4 separate regions of the Homo sapiens genome follow, and all the other regions are linked to region 2. The links come from fine-mapping of genetic effects on gene expression. A gene starts in region 2. Each other region holds a variant in brackets. All regions are shown on one strand. Distances are from middle to middle. Region 1 overlaps LRFN2 (leucine rich repeat and fibronectin type III domain containing 2). Region 2 holds the start of LRFN2 (leucine rich repeat and fibronectin type III domain containing 2). Region 3 overlaps LRFN2 (leucine rich repeat and fibronectin type III domain containing 2). Region 4 overlaps LRFN2 (leucine rich repeat and fibronectin type III domain containing 2).

The links. PIP is the estimated chance that this variant, and not a neighbour inherited with it, causes the effect.
Region 1: its variant is fine-mapped to the expression of LRFN2 in whole blood (INTERVAL, PIP above 0.99). The same link has a PIP of 0.9 or more in CD4 T cells.
Region 3: its variant is fine-mapped to the expression of LRFN2 in whole blood (TOPMed, PIP above 0.99).
Region 4: its variant is fine-mapped to the expression of LRFN2 in whole blood (TOPMed, PIP above 0.99). The same link has a PIP of 0.9 or more in blood mononuclear cells.

What each region holds. Positions count from the first base shown.
Region 1 is chr6:40,386,643-40,391,789 of GRCh38, forward strand. LRFN2 (leucine rich repeat and fibronectin type III domain containing 2) reads right to left here. Exons shown (of 3, transcript NM_020737.3): 3 at 4,949-5,147. Among named protein-coding and RNA genes, the nearest start is that of TDRG1, 11 kb to the left of the region's middle. The variant GT/G (reference allele first, on the strand shown) is at 2,744.
Region 2 is chr6:40,584,110-40,589,256 of GRCh38, forward strand. LRFN2 (leucine rich repeat and fibronectin type III domain containing 2) reads right to left here and starts at 3,255. Exons shown (of 3, transcript NM_020737.3): 1 at 2,832-3,255. RefSeq lists silencers at 3,428-3,527, 3,618-3,687.
Region 3 is chr6:40,417,125-40,422,271 of GRCh38, forward strand. The region is part of intron 2 of LRFN2 (leucine rich repeat and fibronectin type III domain containing 2); the gene reads right to left. Among named protein-coding and RNA genes, the nearest start is that of TDRG1, 41 kb to the left of the region's middle. RefSeq lists enhancers at 1,657-2,293, 2,294-2,929, 2,930-3,565 and a silencer at 2,286-2,580. The variant T/C (reference allele first, on the strand shown) is at 2,174.
Region 4 is chr6:40,406,646-40,411,792 of GRCh38, forward strand. The region is part of intron 2 of LRFN2 (leucine rich repeat and fibronectin type III domain containing 2); the gene reads right to left. It also overlaps the pseudogene RNU6-250P. Among named protein-coding and RNA genes, the nearest start is that of TDRG1, 31 kb to the left of the region's middle. RefSeq lists an enhancer at 2,863-3,364. The variant A/G (reference allele first, on the strand shown) is at 2,764.

The DNA of each region.
Region 1 (5,147 bases), 200 kb before region 2:
AAGATCAATTATCCCAACAATAATAGGAAAATAACCAGGGAAGAGCCTGTAATCTGGGCCTACTTCCTCAGAATAGGTGAGCAAAAGAAAGATGTCACACATTATACAAAATGAGAACATGGAGAAAGATCACTGAACCTGTCAGAAGTTCCTAAATAGCTATGATAGGGGTCACAGGATAGCCTTAGAGGTAAAAGCTAGCTTCTCTCTTTGGTCTGGGGAAAACATGCCAATTTCTCTCTGATAGAAGCTTCAGGGAAGGGAAACCACGAGCCTTGTAAACATTGACTGACTGTGAGGTACAGAACCTTAATTGAGATGATGGAAGCTACAACCTTTGGTTTAAGGGCTGAAAGCACAAATAGATATTTTTAAACTGTGAAAGTGACAGGGTTCCTTTTAGATATTGGGGCAGTAACCTGGATGGGCCTGATTCTATTATGCAAAGGTAGAAACCTCAGGTATTTACCTGTGAGAAGCCTCCTTGTCACAACAAATTCTTCTTGCTGCCAACTGCATCACATGGAAAGGCTAGGTTTGATAATCTAGGTGGGATCTTTAAAACGGTGTATGCAGGTTTTGAGTGCTGCCTGCCAATAGTCTCTTCTTTTGAATAAGTGTGTCTATTTTTCTGGCAGCAGTTTGCAGAAATCCCACTGGTTGTAAGAACAGAGAAAGCCCCACCCAGCTTGCTGAAGCCCTGAGACCTTCACTGCAGGCACACTGAGAACAGAAGATACAGAAGTACTCAGGCTGTACTTATGAAAAATCAATACTCACAGACTTTTAAAGAAAAGTTACTTTGCATTTGGGAAGGGGGAATCCTGAGACAGTGACTGTTGCCTAGCCTGGCTGACAATTATATCCCTTAACAAAAAAGTGTTCCTGAGGTCTTTTCGAATTTCAACACTGTAATGGTGAAAAAATAGAAAATTCTCTTGAGGGAAACCTGAGGGATATGTCATTATCGAGAATGTGGGGAAAGGGGTCAAACTGTTTTTCCAGAAAGCTTAATAATCAACTAGGCAAATATTGTATCAGCTATCTCACCTCTGCAAAAGATTGAAGAGCTGGAGGCTTCTGTATATCAGGAAAGAGGATCTGGGTAGGTATCTTACCTGATAGGGACAGGGGTATTAAAATAGAAAGAGGCGAGAAGATGGGTTTTGTCTCTGAAGCAAGCTGTTGTCAGGCTTTTTATCTTAGGGGGAAGAAGTTATAGGCTCCTGGGGCAGAGCAGCCCAGACAAGACTGGAGATGGAAGGCTCATTCAACAAGCAACCTCCTAGAGGTCACCAAGAGGGAAGAAGGGGTGACCACAGGGTGGGCTGGGCAGTGCAGTCTGAATCCTGAGGAATTTTCCTGGCCAGGGGAGGGAACGTGTTTCAAGGCAAGGAGGGCCAGAAAGGCCGGTGTACGGTCAGAAGGAACTGCTTCACCAAGGTGCTCTTGCCTGGAATTAACACTCTGAGGTTTCTCGCAGATCTTAGGCTAGTCAAGGGTTTCCTGATTAGGCTACAAATGTGAATCATTCAGTCAGTATAAAATACAATCTATAACAGGTTGACGGGAAGAAGAAAGGATGGGAAGGCAGTGTGATGTCATGGGAAGAACTAAGGCTTTGCAGCCAGACTTAACTGTGTGACCTTGGGCAAGTTACTTAACCCCTCTGAGCTTCAGTCCCTTCATTTATAATATGGGCATAATACTATCTACCTAAAAAGGTTTTAGTGATGATTCAGTGAGAAACATATTTGAAGCAACAAGCACAGTAACTGGAAGCTGTAGGTACTCAATAATTGTCAGTTTCCTTCCTCTTCTAAAAGCTGTGCTTTCAAGTCAATTGTATGTCTAGAGTCGCACTGTCTGGTACAGTGGCCAGTACTAGCCACATATGGCTCTCAAGTACTTTAAAGAGGGCTAGTCTGAATTGATATGTGTCATACATGTAAAATACTTTAAAGAGGGCTCATCTGAATTGATATATGCCATACATGTAAAATACAAATCAGATTTCTAAAACTTTGTACCAAAAAATACCATAAAATAACTTACTAATAATTTGAGTGATTACATGTTACAATAATATTTTGGATATATTGAGTTAAAATATAAGATTAAAATTAATTCCACCTGTTTCTTTATATTTGATTCAACATGGCTACTGGAAAATTTAAAATTACAATGCGGCTTACATTTTATTCTATTGGACAGTGCTGATCTAGATACTAGAAAAGACAAGGTTGGGAAGCTGTGTTCCAGAAGCATGTTTGTTTCTATACCTTGAGTTTGGGTTTTGGTTTGTTCTCCCATGGTTTCCCAGTAAAAGACCCTTTTGAAAAAAATACCATCCAGGGCTCAACCAAAACGGGTAGAAGATACCTACATGCCCCTAGTAGTCAGGTGTTGTGGTGACCACAGTCCAGGAAAAAGTAGGTAGGGCTGGTATATCAGAGAATGGAGATGTCAGGTAGGACAGTCAGGACAGCTGGGGATGGACTGTTCTTTTCTTAGCCTGAAGCTTCTCTTCAGATTTCTCTACCTTTCTTTACTCTGGGAAGATGATCCCATTTTCTATTATTTCAGAAGATTCCCCCACCTTATACATGAACTTGGCAAGAAGCAGGCTCCCACCAGGCAGTAACAAACACAGGTGCAAGAGAAAATGCCACTTCAAAGCCATCTTTAGAAAACCCCAGAGTTTCCAGAGAAATGAACAGCAGACATTCACAGACATAAGAAT[GT/G]TTTTTTTTTCCCCCGCCCAAGGAGTGTGGTTAGTGGTTGTTTTTAAAACTGTACATTTTACTGTACATTTTTTTTCTAGCAAAGGAGAAGATTGGCATTTATATTCTGACCACAGGGATGCTGCTTTCCAAAACTCCAAGTCAGAAACATGACAAACACAAGAGCAAGTACATATCATGTCACGATAGAACTCGGAACCGCTGATGAGAATAGACAGTCAGTTGGTTCCTTCCACTGTTCACCACCTTCCCTCTGTGTGTCTGAATCCAAAGGCCAAAAAGAAAGCTGGTGTTTGAGACCACTTCCACAATGGCTATAGTTTGAAAGGATGAATGAGAAAGATGAGGAGGGAGAAAAGAGAAGAGGAAAAAACAGGAAGGGAAAAGAGAAAGGGTGGAAGAGATTTCCTTTCAAGTTGCCCAATTCTGTGGGTGCTTCTGTGACCATAGAAAGGATGTGCTTCAGCCCTGGGACTGGCCTCGAAAATTATTATAACTTGAGGTCTCAGGAGGGACTGGCCTGATCTGTTAATGACCTTGTCAGGACCAGAAAGGGACTGGGAAAGGCAGAGAGTAAAAGGAGAAAAAAAAAGAAGGATGAAGAGAAGAGAGGGGAGGGAGGAGAGTGAGGAAGGAGGAAGGCCTGGGATTTGGAGGCTCTGGGACTAGAGCCGAAGGTAATTCTTCATAGACAGTTGCAAATCCCTCCTTGTGTGTTCCAGAGTGGGGTTGGGGGCCAGCAGCTCGGGTCCAGGTCTGAGGCCATTGGAACTTTTTGGTCCAGAATGGTCTTGCCTGTATGCTTTGTAGGCTGCGTGGTTGGCAAGTGGAAGAAGGAAGAACAAAAGAGAGAAAATAGAGGTCTATGGAAGGAGTTGGGAGAGGAAAGAATGAGTTGGAGAGACTGAGGGAGAGGTAGTGAATTGCTGATGAGTAGACATGGGACAGGGATGCCGGGGAAAGTCATTCCAATCTGTCTACAGCAGGTTCTCCGTGGGCACATCTCCTCTTCCCCTTCTCTTGCCACTGTCTGGCAGGGAGGGGTTATCCCTAGATGGAAAGGAGTCTATGCACCCCTCCCATTCCACCCTGTAATTTCCAAGGATGGACCCTCCTCAAGAAACCAAGAGCAGGCATCCCCCCATCCCACCCTGAGCCACTTTCTTAAGGAACAAACATGGGACAGCCTTTGGACACAGAAAAGCCCTAGGCAGAGTGAAGACAGGGTCATGGATCCCAAATACCACTGCCAGGAGGCAGGTGGCCTTGGCTTCTACCCTGACCTGGTCATGAACTCACTGTGTGACCCTCGGCAATTCCTTTATGCTCTCTGGAAGGGAGAGGGAGGGTTAAAGATGGGATGATTGCAAACACCTCCCCAAGCTTCAAAAGCCTATGATTCTAAAAAGATTCAGCTTTCCCCCTCCAAGGCTTCTAGAATTCTCTGTGTCCAGTAAAAAGGAGGGGCACTGCTGTAACCAGCTTGTGCTTCTGGTGTCACTAAGCAAAAAAGCCTAACATCTAGAGTCATGAATAATTAATAGGCCTATAGAACTGGAAAGGGACTGGAGACCTAGTACAATCCCAGTATTTTTGCAAATTGAGAAATTCAGGTCCCAACAGATAAAAGGGTCTTGCCCCAGTTATTCAGCTGGCTATTCATGTGACTGTGGAGCCCAGACACAGAACTTCGGACTCCAAGTCCACTGCTGTTTCTGCCACCCCTGCTGCTTTCCTTAAGAGAAGCCCTCCTGGCCTGCCACATGCTCAAGGGGGACTTTCCATGCCAGCTTCCCAGAAAGAGTGGCAACAAGCCCAAAGCAACTCCAGAAGTTAAGATCCCTTGTGCCCTATAGCATGAAGCCCTCCTCCCTCCCCACACGTAAGAACCCAGGAAATTACCCTTCTGGTTTAAGCTTCTGTGATGGGTGTGGCATGTCATGTTTGAGAAGCAAAGGAAACTAGGTCAGGTATCGGGGGTCAGTCACTCACCCCTTCCAGTGTCGGGTGTGGGGTGGTTGGGAGTAATGAGAGCTCTGAGCAGGGAACCCCACAGTCTTCCCCCAAACAAGTGTGGAAACAGAATAATTCCCTCCTCTTGTCAATTGGCAACAATTACCCACTACCAGGGCTGCTGGGAACACACATTCATATGTACGATTAACTCTCGATTATTCGTGTGAATGAAGAGGAGGAGTCTGGGAAATGGAAAAAAAATAAATTAAGAAATAAAAACAACACTAGACCCATAAGCAATCCAAAGCCGCTTGCTTGTAGGCTACATTTGTGATTAGAAAGGCGGAGTCTCGCCTTTCCAAACACTCAGGGCTCAGTCCGGCATTTGAGCGAGTCCACATTCCCTGAGCACACCCCGGCCGGGTGGTGGGGAGGTGATGTGGGTGT
Region 2 (5,147 bases):
AGCTTATGTCTGATGGCATCAAACCCTCCTGGCAGCTCCCTGGACAGGGGGAAGTTGGCTGTACTATCCTCCATGTCTCTGAAGAACTCTCTCTCCCTTCCAACCCTCCCTGTTTCCACTGAAGACTCTCCCAGATCTGAAAAGCGGTTTGGGGACTGCCAGGAAAACATCAGGTCATAATACATCTATTGGGTACATGCTATTATTTTATTTTACCAGGTCAAAACACAAAGACTCACATTGTTAACCAAGATATGGCAGAGCCAGAATTTGAACCCAGGCCACCCAAGTTGAGGTTTCATTCCATTATATGACAACTCTATCCCTTCAATAAGTTGGACCCTAAAACTCCACCCCTACCCAAAGGAAAATCACAAAATACTCAAATTGTTGTTGCTCTTGTTCAGAGTCCAATTCCACTTGGCCATCCCAGGTTGTTTATTGCTATATGTCTCTGCTTCCAGTCTAGCAGCCTCCCCCATCAGACTGTGAACTCCCTAGATGCTAATATCTACCTTAGGAAAGGGGAGTTTCTGAAAACAATTAATTCCAATTTCACTTCTCCACTGTCCCTGGGTAGACAGACCCCACGCCAGGAGCTTATAAGCCTCTATACATCCACCCTGCAAAAAAGGAGAGCAGAACCTGCTCAACCCCACAGGCTGAAGAGGCTTGGCAAACTGGCACTTGGAGGCCAGAATCCCTGTTTTTTTTTTTTCCTTTGGAGCTGAAGCAAAGATAAGAAGAGCAATTCCTCCTTCAGTCAAAGAAGGACTCAGTTGGCCAGAAGGCTGCCTGGTTTCCCCGGTGGCCCCACCCACTCTGACTGCATTTTCTTCCCATCTATCTTGCTTCTCCTCCTCAGCCTCACCTCCTGGAAGCTCCCAGCTCACCCTCTCTCAGGCCAGACTCCCCAGCTTCTCACGTTTCTGGGCCTGAGCAAAGAACTGGCACTTCACAGAAGAAGGAGCCCTGAACCCCAGCCTCCAGCCCACAGCAGGCAGGCACCCAGTTCTTCTAGACAGGAGATGGAACTGGGAGCCAACCTTCCAGAGGCTGAAACAGAAATGCCAAGTTTGCTGTTTGCATCCCCAGGATGAGGGCAGGAAGATAAATAATTACATTCCTGGTCAGGAATTAGACCAGAAACTCTAAATTGAGGGCTGGGCAGGGGGCCTGAGCAGAAGCATGTGAGGAGGCCAGAGGGAGATGCAACTCTGCACTCCCAGCCAGAGTCAGAAGGGAAAGATGACATTCCAGCATCAGCAGAAGGGCCCAGGCAGCTGGCATGGTCGGCGGAGGATGACGGCTCCAAGTGCAGGCCTTTTGGAGCTTCTGAATCCTCCCTACAGGACTCTGACCCCCTTCAGCCTCTGATGTACCCCACAAGGAAATGACACTACCCTCAGGGCTCTGCTGTGTGTGGCTATATAAAGCTCCTGCCAGAGGGCAGCGACCAGACCAGGGCACAACCCCAAGACCTAGTTCCCTTGCTCCCCACCTTGAGTTCCAAATCGGCCCCCACACAAGAATAACAGCCCACATAGAACCTCTAGCCCTGGCCCCTGGGAACTTCACAGCCCAGGGAATGGCAGTTTCCTCCCTAGCTTTGCTCCTCCCCAGCAGCAGGGGGTCAAATTCCTGAAGCTTCCCCCTCCCCCAGTACTAGAAGGCCAATCAGGCCATGGAGGCCACAGCTGCCACCTCCCTGAAACATACACATGCGTACACACACACACGCGTACACACACACACACACACACACACTCCATTGTGGCCAGGGGAGGGGGTCATCATCTATAGCCATGCCTGTAACTCCAACTCAAGAGTGCAGGCTCTGACATGTTCCCTGTCCCTGCAGGTGTCTGTCCGTCTGCAGCTGTCTGCTGTCGCCGGGTGCATTTGGCAACAGTCTGGCTCAGTCCCTCTGCGGTCTCCACTCAGGCTCTCTTCTCCCTCCTGCTCTGGTTTTCAGAGGCTCTATCTCCCTAGAACTCTCTGTCTCTGTCCTTTGTACCGGGCTGATGGGAAGACGAGTAGGACACCTCCCTCAGAAGGTCTGTGCAAAGTAAGGCACTGTCCACCTCGGAACGGTCTACTGCTCTCCCTCCTCCCTGCCCAGGCCAACCTTAGAACCAGGGCAGGGCTGGGTGGGAGACAGAGACCTAGGAACCCAGGCATGGCTAATGCCACTTTCCATATTGCTTCATCATGCCATTCTGATGCCCCAAGCTGCACACACACACAATCCCCCTGATCTGCTTTCTGCCTGAGGCCAGCATAGGGTCCCTGAACCTGCCCTACCTGCCCCCACAAACTGCAACCATGCCTTCCTTCCTCCCATCCGCTCTGCATCAACCCTTCCGCACTTGGCTTTACCCCACCCCACCCAGTCCACAGAGCTCAGGGAGTCCCCGGCGCCCCCACCTAGCCCCCAGCAATGGCTCTAGCCAGGCCTTGCATGTGCGGAGATGCAACAGAGTGGTCTGGCGGCAAAGTTCTCCTGCTGTTTTCAACGGTTCCATCCACCCGTGGCTCCCCGTCTCTCCATCCGGCTCTCCAGTCTCACATGGACCCGGCTCTCCCCGCTCCCCGCCAGAGTTTCACCCCCACTGTAGGAAATAAAGACTAAAGAAAGGAAAGGAAATCTCTCGCGATAAGGATGGGCGAAAAGAGAAGGGGGTGTCCGCATGAGCACCTAGGATGCGGGGAGTCTTCAAGAGAAAAAGAAAGGGATGCAAAGTTCCCGGTTCCCTCGGGTGCGTTCAGCCCCGCGCCGAGCTCCCGCGGACACCCGGGATCGCAAAGACGCAGCGCCGGCGACCACTCACCTGGGCGAGGCAGCATCTACCCCCGGCTGGGTGGCACCGAGGCCGGCTCCGCGGGGCGCCCGGGCTCCCCGGCTCGGCCACGCATCCTTCCCCGCCCGAGACAGACTCGAGCTAAACCCTCCGGCGGCTCCGGCGAATGCAGGCAGATGGTGGCCTCGGACGTCCACGCGGGGAAAGCCCTGAGCCGCTTATTCAGTTATATCCATGGCATTTAGCAAGAAGAAGGGGGGAAAAGCACAACTTGTTCTCTTCTCTTCCAGATTAAAGAAAAATAATAATAATAATCCCTCCCTAGGAGGATGCCGGTAGGATTTTCCGGATCGAAGAACCCCAGGCATTCCCAGGAACCTCGGGCATCTTGGAATGTGGGGTGTCTTCAAGTTCAGACGAGCCTGCCGGGTTGTGTATGTGTGAGTGTATGTGTGTCTCAGCGAGAGGGAGCCAGGCACTCACACCCACACGCACACACAAACACACTCCCCCGTACTCCCCGCATGCACACTGCCCCCCACGCGCGCGCGCATACGCGCGTACCCGGTTTCTCTCTCCGCTCCACACACACACACACACACACACGCACACACACACACACACGGATCACACGCTCCAATCTGGGAGGGAGTCGGGCGGGCTGCGGAGACAGCGCAGGGCCAGCAGTGGAGAAAACCCAGCGGCCAGAGGCGCCCAGGAACCCGGCGGCCGTGCGCACCGTCCCCGCCGAGCTCTCCGGCGCGGCAGCCCCCAGTGGCGAACCGCGGAGCTGCAGGAGCCGAAGGCAGCCTCTGCGCCCGCTGCCCTGCCCGCTGCCGAGCGCACCCGCTTCCGAGACGACCAACACCGCCGCGGAAACCAGAGGGATTCACGGTCCTGGCAGGGGTGGCGCGGGGACGCACGGTGGGGCGGGAGTGGGCTGGGGCCGCAGTCGCGGAGGGAGGTGGGCAGGCCGCGAGCCCCGGAACCGGGAGGGCGGTCTCCGCGGTCCAGCGGCACGGGCAGCCCCTGCGGAAGGCGAGCCGGGCGGCCAGGGCTGCACCTCTGCAGCTGGCGACGGCGCTGCCACCTCACGTGCCTAGCGCGCCCTGCAGCCGTCAGCCCGCCGCCTGCTGGAGGAAAACCCGACCGCGCCGGCCCTAGGCTGGGAGTGGGGGCTGGGGCGATCGCGCCCACCCAGTCCTGGGGCCCAGTTCAGATTCTCGAATCCTGGTAAGGGACCTATGAATAACGAGCGCCCCGTGCACGCACACACACGCACTTTGACTTTTCATGATTATTACAAGAATCAGTGAAGGGTGCAGTGGCGCCAAGTGTTTGCACAGCATCTTTACAACTCTTCACTTGTTTGATCTTCTCAGCAACCCTCATTTGATGTATAAGGAAACTGAGGCCCAAAAGAGTAAAGTGACTTGTCCAAGGCATGTGGTAGGTAGCGGAGACCCTACTCAAAGCAGACTGTGAGCTCACAGTCAGAACACCCAGGTCTGGCCAAGGTCTCGTCTTTGGTTATCCTCTCGGTTCACTATAAACAACTAGTTACCAGAAAGGTAGGACCGTCCTCTGCCTTACTGGACTCCCCAAGAGGCATTTCCTTCCTTCTAAAGGAAATGAAATTTTGAGATTCCTGTTGGTACTCCAGCTGGTAAATCCAGGGGCAGGAAGAATGTCAATGTTGCAGTCCTTCTCTTCTCTCCTGGTGGCTAACACATCCCGTGCACCTGTCCCGGTTACCCACAGGGAGGCACATGTTGCATGTGGATGTGTCTCTGCAGCCCAGGATTGGCTCGGCTGGATACATCTGTAACATACGACCCTGTGTCCTCTCTACACACATGCATAACTGCAGAAGCCGAGGCAGCTGGTCCTCATGTGTGCACCCTCCACATGTGCACCCCGGGAAACTGCCAAACTGGCATGCTGCATATCCTTGAAGACAAGCCTCTCCCTGCAGGAATTCTGGAAAGCCTGGTGGGGGAGGGGCATGGCCAAGATGAAACTCAAGGTATATGGGGTGGGCCTTGGAGAGAAGGGATCTAACTCAGGAGCAGGGAGTGAGGGATAGAGGTAGGGAAGAGTCATGAGAAGGAAAGTAATGAGGAAGGAAGAGGTGAGTAAAAGGAGGTGTGGAGTAGAAACTGGGGAGGGCAAGTAGGGAAGAGGAAGGGGAAGGGAAGAAGGAGGGGAGAACAGCAGGGAAACTGCCTTACTCTTTGCTTACCTGAGGGCTTGCCTACTATTGGCGGGAGCTCCCAGGAAGAAAGGCTTAGGAAGAACCACAGCCTGGGCTCAAGCCTTTGAATTCTCCCAAGGGTTGGGGGCAGT
Region 3 (5,147 bases), 170 kb before region 2:
TTCCACTCAGACCTTTTTCCTAGCAACAATCAAAGCTTGAGGGAGGAGAGCAAAGCAGCCTTGGGAAGCAGCCCTTGGCACTGGCTCACACGCGGTGGCATTTTGACGGGTGGTAAAAATATCTGGTGTTCAGTGCCGGCTGCCGCTGCTGCCACCATCTCAGCTTCCAAGATCCTGTCTCCATGCTCAGTGCCTCGGCAGCCTCCCGACCTGTCCACGCACACCTTGGGAGTCAGAGCACAGGTCACTGAGCCCCTGACCAAGGGCCACATTCATGTATGACAACTGCCACCTTCATTGCCAGGGCCAGGCACCAGCCAAAAATGCACTTATGAGCTACTAGAGTAGGTGATTTATTGTCAGAAATGCCACAGCACACACCTAATGAGCTAATTAAGCAAAAATATAAATAATTACTCCCTATCAGAGTACAAGGTTGTGGGGTAGAGGGGGTGGGGAATGCTGACAGAGGAGCTGGGTCAGTGATGGCGTGGGATGCTCTGCTCTGCAGGGGGAGATCCAAAACTCCTCTCCACTCACGGCTATGAGTTGGGCCTCAGTGAGGTTCCCAGGCTGGGCAGACATAGGCCCAAGGATTCTGCCAGAAAAATCATGACAACATGCTGCTTTGTTCCCTACCTAAGTACTTCCTGCTCACTCACAGGCGCACACCCTAATCTCCTCCTGCCCCAAGTGGGAGAGAAAGAAGGGGTCCTTCTCCCATTTTATGGATGTGAACATTCAGGAGCAACAGGGTCTCAAGATACAGCTAAAACTCTGCAACCATCCCGTAACTGGTCTCCCTGATGCTATCCCTGCCTGCTGCGGTATATTCTCCAACCAGCAGCAGAATCTTCTTTCTTAATCACATCATGCCAGTCTCCTACTTTCAAATCTCCCCAGCCCCAGCCCCAGAGGTTTCCGTCTCATTCAAGATAAAATCCGAGGCCTCATCATGGCCAGCAAGGGCCTATGTAATCTAGCCCTGTCCAGTCTTCTCACTCATTCACTGCCACTCTTCCTCCAGAGGCACTGGAGTCCTTGCCACTTCTCCAACAGGATGAATGCATCCCTCCCCAGGGCCTCTGTATGTGCTGTTTCACCTGCCTGACTCTTTCACTCCATTCAGGTCTCCACTCCAACATCACTCCTTACAGAGGCGATTCCTAACCACCCATATAAAACTGTAGCCCTCTGGTCTCGGTCTCGTTACACTGCTTATTTTTCTTCCTCGTGTACATTTTTGAACTTTTCATCTCTCCCCCCAGTAAGAATGTAAGCTCCTTGATATTCAAGGCCACCCATACTTTTCCCTGTTCCCACCTCTGCCTTCCTATCACTTCCCTAGGCAAGAGCTGTGCCTGTCTTTTCCCAATCCTGAGGTCTTGACCAGACAATAAATATTTATTGACTGAATAAATGAATATCTGGTTCCAAATACAGAGTTTTCCTCACCCCAGGTCATTCTTCCCCTCAGAACTAGACCCTGGCTTCTCATCAGCAACAGGAGGAAGCCCAAAGTCAGGACAGCACTTGTTCCAAGCTCAAGCTCCCCTGCCTCCAAGCTGTGAGACCTTGCAAGTCACGCCACCTCCCTATGGCTCAGAGTCCTCATCTGTCAAGTGGCAATCATGGATCACACCTCATAGGGTTAACATGAGTCCAAATAAGAAAACATGCAGAACAGCTTTAGAACAGTACCTGGAGTGCAGTAAGGGCTCAGAAACATAGCTACTTTGTGTGACATTCAAGGCTATCCATACTCTGCCCTCTTCCAACCTCTGCATTCCTATCCTTTTCCTAGACCAGTGATTCTCAAAGTAAAGTCCCAAGACCAGCAGCATCAGCATCCCGGAGAGAATGTATTAGAAGTGCAAATTCTCAGGCTCCACTCGGTACCTACTGAATTACAAACTCAAGGGGCAGGGTCTTGCACTTGTGTGTTCACAAGCCTGCCAGGTGATTCTCATGCTTGCTCAGGTTTGAGAACCACTGCCCTCTAAGGGGGCTTTCTGCCAGGAAAGTCAAGTGTCGCAAATTATTGGTCCTGTTTCTTTACCAGCCTGTGATACAGCAGCACCTCCACAGCCTTTCATGGATTGATGCTGAGCGCAGTTCATTCCCTGCACCTTGCCTTTGGGCTTGGCCATGTAACTTGCTGTGGCTAGCGGGA[T/C]TTTGCAGGTGTGATACCAACAGAAGCTTGACGTTCATTTCTGCAGGTGGGCTTGCCTTCCTGCATTTCTGCTATCACCATGAGAAGAACATACCTGGAGAACCACTACCCCTCTCCTGGGGCTCCAGGATGAGATACACAGAGAAGATTGAAATCAGAACTGGAGCCTGAAGCCAAGTGCAGTCCTGCCCAGCCCAGCCCAGGCCAGACCAGTTCAACTCCAGCCAACCTGCAGAGCTATGACTAAGGAAATTCAATATTCTTGGATGTAAGCCACCTAGAGTTTGAGGTTCTTTGTTATGCAACATGGTTGTGGCAGCAGCTGATGAATACACCAGGGGCCCTCACAGGCCTTTGACTGGGCCTGATCATTCCTGCCTCTGTCTCTGTCTTCATTGGTTTCACCCAAAACAGCTACCACCCCCTCACCCTGACCCCGCACAGCCTCCTTCCTTCCAAATCCCACCTTAACCCCAGGACACAGCTTACACTCCACTCTACCTGCTCTCATAGCCCCCCAGAATATGTTCCTCTCAAGCCAGGCAGTTAGCTCATGGAAAAGCCCAAGTGGACTAATTTCACCAAGCAATTCATTTACGTTTTAACCTTTTGCGGGGCTAATTGCTAAACTGAGAAGCTCCTTTACTTAGTACCATTACTGACTAATGACCTAGTGCAAAGGTTTGGTGTTTAACAGATCTCTTCCATGCTTCATTTCCTGCCGCTCACCTCCTTTACAATGCAATCGGAGTTCATTCGCATATCTGGATCAGCACTCTTAACCACAGCATCAGCCCCACAGCCGCAGAGCACAGCGGAGCCCACCTTTGGAGCCCACCCCTGCTGGAAATAGCTCTCTTTTGTAAAGAGTTAACGAGCTCGTTCATCCACAGTGCTTGGCTGCATGGCCCTGCATTCACCCCGGGGTGGCCCATCGCGTCCTGTGGTTTTGTGCCATTCTTCCTGCCCCACCTCTGAGACCCTGAAGATGGTGGACATTAATTTGACTTCTTGTTGTGATCCCTTCTGTCACCCACAGGGTGCCCACTCCCATCACACACATTCATGCCAGACCATAGGCCTAATTGTCAAGAAGTAAGCTTCCCTCTTTGCTTTGCTCTGTGTCTCCAGAGATGAGAAAAGAACACTCACAGACAGGCAGGAAAGCAGCCCCATCAGCTTCCCCCCCAGGCTGGCCTCAGCCACAAACTGGCTACTGGTTGCTGGGACTGTGTGGGCAGGTGCCAAGAAATGCTCACAGCAGCGATGCTTTCGCCCATGCAGCTCTGTGGCCATCATACGCCTCCCCAACATCCATTCCCCACTTCTAACTTCCCGGCAGAACGTTATTTTATCTAATGGGGAGCAACATGCGTGAACAGACAATCGCCTTCCTCAGCCTCCAATGTGCACTGGAGGAAATACAATAAGCTAGCAGCAAAAGTCAGTGGGTGGGATTCTTTAAAGTGGTTGGTGCCTGTCTTAGTTTGGGTTTCCCAGATGCAGACCCTGAGACAAGGATTTGAATACAAGTAGTTTATTTGGGAGGTGGGCTCAGGAAACTGTGGTAAGGAAGTGTGGAAGGAAGTCAGCACAGGGCATTTTGCTAAGCAAGTTACCACTGTGGGCAATGAGGCCCACCCCTAATGGGAGCCCCTGGGAGTGAGCATAGACCATGTATCTGCCTTTCTCCAAGGCTGAGGAAGCTGGGGTATTAATCCTCCAAACTCTGTTAAAGGCTGAGGGCTGATCCCAGGGTTGGCGACTCCTCTGTGGATAGGCCACACCAGAGAAAGTCCCCAGGTAGAGAATGTGAGCAAGAGCAAGAGCAGTGAGCCACACATTAAGAATAATGCAATTGACCTGCTTCAGTCCCTGACTCCATGGAGCTCCCATACCAGCTCTGAACTACCTCCTTCTGGAATGCTTTGACAGAATTGTGAACTCACAAAAGTATCTGATAGGTCTCAATCCATTTAGAAAGTTTATTTTGCCAAGGTTAAGGACATGCCCATGATGCAGCCTCAGGGGGTCCTGGAGACACGTGCCCAAGGTAGTCTGGGTGCAGCTTGCTTTTATACATTTGAGGGAGACCTAATACATCAATCAATACATGTAAGATGTACATCAGTTCAAACTGGAAAGGCAAGAGGTGGGTCGCTTTGAGGTAATAGGTAGATTTAAAGATGTTCTGATTGGCAATTGGCTGAGTTATTATCAATAAAAAGGAGTGTCTGGGTAACAATAAAGAGTAGTGGAGACCAAGGTTTTATCATGCAGATGAAGCCTCCAGGTAGCAGGATTCAGAGAAAATAGATTGTAAATGTTTCTTATCAGACTTAAAGAGTCTGTTCTGTCAGTAATTCCAAAAGAGAGGAGGGTATAATGAGGCACATGTGGCTCCTCATTCCTATCATGGCCAAGTTTTTTCAGGTTAACTTTGGAATGCTCTTGACTGAATGGAGGGGTTCATTCAATTGGTTGGTGGGCCTTAGAATTTTATTTTTGGTTTTCAGAATGACGGAAATAACCCCCAAATTTGGAAAAGTCAGATTTCTGCTACTAGAAGCACTTCACACTTTATGAAGATGTTCTTCTTTCACGCTTTGTCATCTCTTTCCAATGTTACAACAACCTGGTGAGTTATCATTATCTCCATTTAGCAGGTGAGGAGCCTGAGGTTCAGACAAGTAAAGAGAAGGGAGATCTCAAGAGCCCATGTCTGGAGCCCCTGATTCCATCTTTCTTATAGTAATCACTCAGACTCAGCTGAGGGGTAAAAAAAATGGCTCCAGTGAGCTGAAATGCACATGGTGTTTTGTTTCCAAAGTGTTTCCACATATGTTATCTCTTTGGAGATAACCCCATAGAGAAAAGATTTTTTCTTCCAATGTTAGATGAAGCAAATCTCAAAGAGATGAGTAGTGCATGGTAGAGCTGGGATTGAACCCAGGCCTTCTGGCTTCTTCCCTCA
Region 4 (5,147 bases), 180 kb before region 2:
AACTCTGAGTGACTCATGGGGGCCGTGGTCTGACAGACTGCGTCTTCCTCCCACCAGCCCAATGCAACCCCACAGCTGCCCAGAACAAGCCTGTTTCTTTCTTTTGGACATGTTGTTGCTTCCCATATTGTGAGGCCACTCTCTCATCCCACCTTGAAGAATTCACATTTCCATTTCCTCCAACCATTTCCTCATAGCACAGTTTCTAGTTTGCTGGCAGGCTGCCCCGTCTGATCATACCTGATCACATGTCAGTTTGTCTTTGGCCCTTCTCTTTGGGGGTTCTCAGTAGTCAGACCCTACATTGCCCCAGTCAGACATCACACTTGTGGACACCACCCCCTCCCTGGAAGTACACTGGATTCTCTAGAAGCCACATCCCACTGGTGGTCACACTGAGCAGACTGTCAATGGAGAGGCCCTGTGCTTTCCCAGGACTGCTGTTAAGCCACATTGCTTAAACAGTGTCCCCACGACTGCAGGCTCAGCCAACCCAGGCAAGCTCTTGAGCCCATGTAAGGCCTGCCTCTCTCTCTCTCATTCTGTGTATGTGTGTGTGTCCTCATTCAGGTCTCCACAGATATAGAAGTCTTCTCTATTTAATTGTATTTAATTGTCCTTAGCTTCCAGCCCCCAGGGACTGGGTTGGCATATCTTAGAGGAAAGAGTGTAGGCTTTGGACTCAGACAGAAATCTCTCTTTGAAGGCTAGTTCTGCCCCCGACCAGATGTGTGACTGTAGACCATGTGACTTTCCTCTCTCTGAACCTCTGTTTCCTCACATGTGAAATGGGAGAGTAATACTAGCCTTCTGTGGTGAGTGTGAGAAATCAAGTACAATAGGAATAAACATGTCTGCTCCCTTCCTGGGTCATCTGGTACCACAATGGCGATGACTACAATGATGCTACTTGTCATTTATCTCCTGGAGGAGCTGAGAAGAGCTTGTTCAACAACAACTCATCACTTGGAGAAAAAATGCAGAAGGTGTCAGATCAATTATACCTTGTTATAAACACAGACGTGTGCAAAGTGAAGATTCCCCACCAGCTGTGCCCAAGTCACGCTAGAACAGCCAGCAGACACCAAGTAAACACCACCTAATGATGAACCTGGTCGGACCATTCACGCCAGTTGGCAGATCCATAATTTCATGGGGGCATCACCCGGAGCAAAGCCAGCACCAGCCTCCTTGAAAATGCTATCGTATGCTCTCTTTGGCAGCATTTCCATTAAAACTGGAACCATGCAGAGGTCAGCATGGCCCCTGCAGAAAGATGACAGCAAATTTGTGAAGCATTTTATATGAAATTCTGGTACATGCTACAACTTGTGTGAATCTTGTGTGATTCCACTTATATAAAAGACCTGGAGTAGTCAAATTCATAGAGACAGAAAGTAGCAGGGTGGTTGCTGGGTGCTGGGGGGAGTGAGGAATGGGGAATTCTTATTTAGTGAGTACAGAGTTTTAGTTTGGGGTGATGAAAAAGTTCTAAAATGGATGGTGACAGTGACTGCACAACAATATGATGTATTTAGTGCCAGTGAACTGTCCACTCAAATGTGGTTAAAATGGTAAATGTTATGTATATTTTACAATAAAAAATGGCAAAAAATATCGCAAAGCCAATTCTACCAGGTGAGCAGGAAGAGGAGAGGTTGTTGGAAATAGATGTGTCACTTCAGGGAGGCTGATGAACATATGGGTGGCAGTCACCCTCGGCAGGGGCTTCTTGGTTCTATTGTCTATGGGCTTGGGTGGTCCTGTCAGATCTGGGGAAGGAGACAGCATTTGGGGAGGGGTAGAAAGAACCCCTGGCCATCTGATGCTATTCTACATGTGCCCCAATGGATGAAGAGTAGAGCAACTCCAGAGCAGAAGTTGGCAGGAATCAAATGCCTGGGAAGAAGTCGCTGAAGATCCAGCATGGTGGTTCACAGCAGCTGGGCCTGGGTTCAAATCCTGCTCTAGCAATGACTAGCTGCGTGACCCTAGGCAGATTACTTACCCTCTGCCTCAGTTAAATAGGAACACTAGTACCTACTGTGTAGGAATATAGTCAGGACTAAATGAGGTAAAGTGTGTTAAATGCTAGGGGTGCCTGGCAATAAATGAAGGAATGGTAAACACTGTATTTTGTTTCAATGCCAATGGTGAAGTCAACAGTAACACTTTGTCTTAGTTTCTTTGTATTGCTTAACAGAATACCACAGAATAATTTATATTTTTAAAAAACAGCAACAAAATTTTCTCACAGAACTGGAGGCTGGAAGCCCAAGATTAAGGTGCCAGCATTTGGTCTGATAAGGGCCTTCTTTCTGTATCCTCACATGGCAGCAGTGGAAGGGCAAGAGAGACAGAGAGCCCCCTCGGTAGCCACAAGCCCTCATGACTTTATCACCCCTTACAGGCTCCACTTCTTCATCCTATCATCCAGGATTAGGTTTTAACCTATGAATCTCAAAGAGGACACAAGCATTCAAACTATTGCACCCTTAATAAAGCAAATCTGGGTAAAATGAAGCCCTCAGTCATTTCATGGAGGGGCATTGGGGCCCCACCTTTTCCTTCAATTATAACCATCTCCCTCTGTCAGATCAGAAGCTGTATCATAAGAAGGAACCTGTATCGACCCCCAGGGTGAATTTGTGCTCTAGTGAAGAAGGTTTACTGACTGTGCCATGCCTGGTGAGTCACTTCCCATGTTTGAGCCTCGCCTTCACAGTTTTCTCACTTGCAAAATGGGTTCGTAACAGCAATCAT[A/G]TGGTGTCTTTGTGAAAATTAAGTACTATGATATTTGTTCAGTACAGAGTATGCTGCTGAGAGTATGTTTATGCAATAAAAAGAAGCCATGATGATGTTTGCATTTGGTATTTGAAGATCAGTTTCAAATGTTGGCCCCACCATCTGCTAGCTGAGCAATCTTGAACAAGGGATTTTGCTTCTCTGAATCTCAGCCTCCTCATCTGTCAAACGGGAATGAGAACACTACCACCTCCCCCAAAGGACCGTCTGGAAAACCTAAGACGCACATCTACTTGGACACAGTATGTAAGTGGTGAAGCATTTATAAATGTGAGGTGTCCATTTTTTATAATGGGGACAGCCAGCACTCGTGCATGAATGAGTGACCGAGAAACTTATTGACACTTCCTTGGGGGCTGTTCCAAGCTGCATGCCTGGAGGCAGACCCCCTGGTGAGAGACTAGCTGGGCATCCGGCTGCTGAGTTGCTGCATCATCCTGCCTGCTGCCTCACCCCACGGAGAGTTGCCCTTTCCACCCAGCAGTCAGGAGGAGCCCACTCAGCACTTCGCTGGGCTGTGTTTCTGCTGATTCTCCCTGGATACCTCTGTCTCTAACAAGCAGTCTGCTCAGGAAGGAATTAATTAAGGGTGGGGAGAGTGACGACCTATAGCAGGAGGTCTCAGGTGGGCAGCTGGGAAGCCCCACTCTGTCCAGCCAAGTGGAAGGTCCTGATGCACTCCCAACCCTGGAGTCAGCAGGAGGGAGGGTGGGGGAGCAGAGCCGTCCCCACCCACCAGCCATCCTCATGTCCAGGCTGGAGGATGAGGCTCTAACTCCCACTCTGTCATGACTTGTTCAGCCTTGAGCAATTCACTTTCCTTCTCTGTGCTTTTAACATTCTAGAATTTCACAAGAACATCACTGGAAGAGGGGTGATGGGAGCACGGGGGAGGCAGGAGGAAGGGGATGGGATATTGGGGTTGTGGAAGTAGGGGCAGCAGCACGTCCCTGACCCCGAAAGCACACAGGAGTTAGCATCAAAGTGACCTGGGCTCAAATCCCATCTCCACAATTTATTGACTATATCTTTACTCCCTTACTTAACTTTCCGTAGCTTTTGTCTTCTTATTTGTAAAAGCAGTTTGCAAACCCAATTTGCAGAGTTATATGAGGATCAGAAGTAATGTACACCAAGCACTGGCATACAATATATACTCAATAAATCATTTATATATATAGTGAATGCTTACATACTTTATTATTGTCTATCTTCTATTTATCTTTCTATCATCTCTTACAGACTAACACCATCCATTCCACCCACCTCGCAGCAGGACCCCTCCTGGTGGCAGAAGATGAGCCGCCTGAGGGCACAGGTAGTTTTAGGGGTTGGGGTCTCTGCCAGATGGGCAGAGGAGCCTTCCTATGGGATTTGTTCATTAGCCAGGAGCTTTAAGGTGGGGCTGGCCTAGCCTAGAGGTGCACCATCCTGATTTTGCCTGTGAATTACTAAAAGCAGCAGTGTAATTATCCTCCTTCCTCTGTCCTGCCCCAAGTCTGGGAGCAGCCAGGGCCTATGGGGACAATGAACACAGAACAGAGCCATTAATTGCACACCAGGGTCCCTGGAGGATGGCCATATGGGCCTGTCATCTTAGTGTGGAAGTAATCATGTAAATAAATCACGTGTGAGTAAATCACAGACTTATCTCATCTGTAATTTTCTGGGAGTCTCTCCAGCACTGTTTATTGAGGTGCATGGGTCTGAAGCCCCAGAAATTGGCTCACTCTCCTCCCTCTCCTGCTCCAGCTGGGGAGAGGCCATTCTGGGTGGCAGATGGGAGTGAGGCTGATGAGGAGTCGTCCCTGCTCTGCTGGGGTACATGCAGGTGCAGTGGAGGGTGAACCCCAAACGGGCACGGTAGGAGTAGGGGGGCTGTGTGAGTGAGTGGCCGTTGGCCAGTGTGTGCGTGTAGGTACGTATGTGAGTGTGACTGTGCGTCCACTGGCCAGCGTGGAAGCAGCCCTGGGCATGTGAGCAGGGAAAAGGATTGACCTGAGGCTGTGAGCACCTGTGAACATGCACAGGTCGGGTGAACACTCGAATCAGCGTCCTTACAAAGGCCACATGGCCCTGTGGGGTCTGGCCCCACTGCCTCTCTGCCCCATCTCGCCCACCCTGCCCTGCACTCTGTGCTTCAGCCACCCTGGCCTCTTCGTTGCTCCTCAGAAACACTCCAGCCATGGAGGCTTTGCCCTGGCTCTTCCTTCTGCCTGGAGGGCCCTTCCCACAGACCTCAGTCCAGCTCCCCTTCAAGTCTTTCCTCAAATCCCACCTTCTCGGTGAGGCCTGCCCTGGACACGCTAGCTAATATTACAACTTACCCACCACCCCCAGCA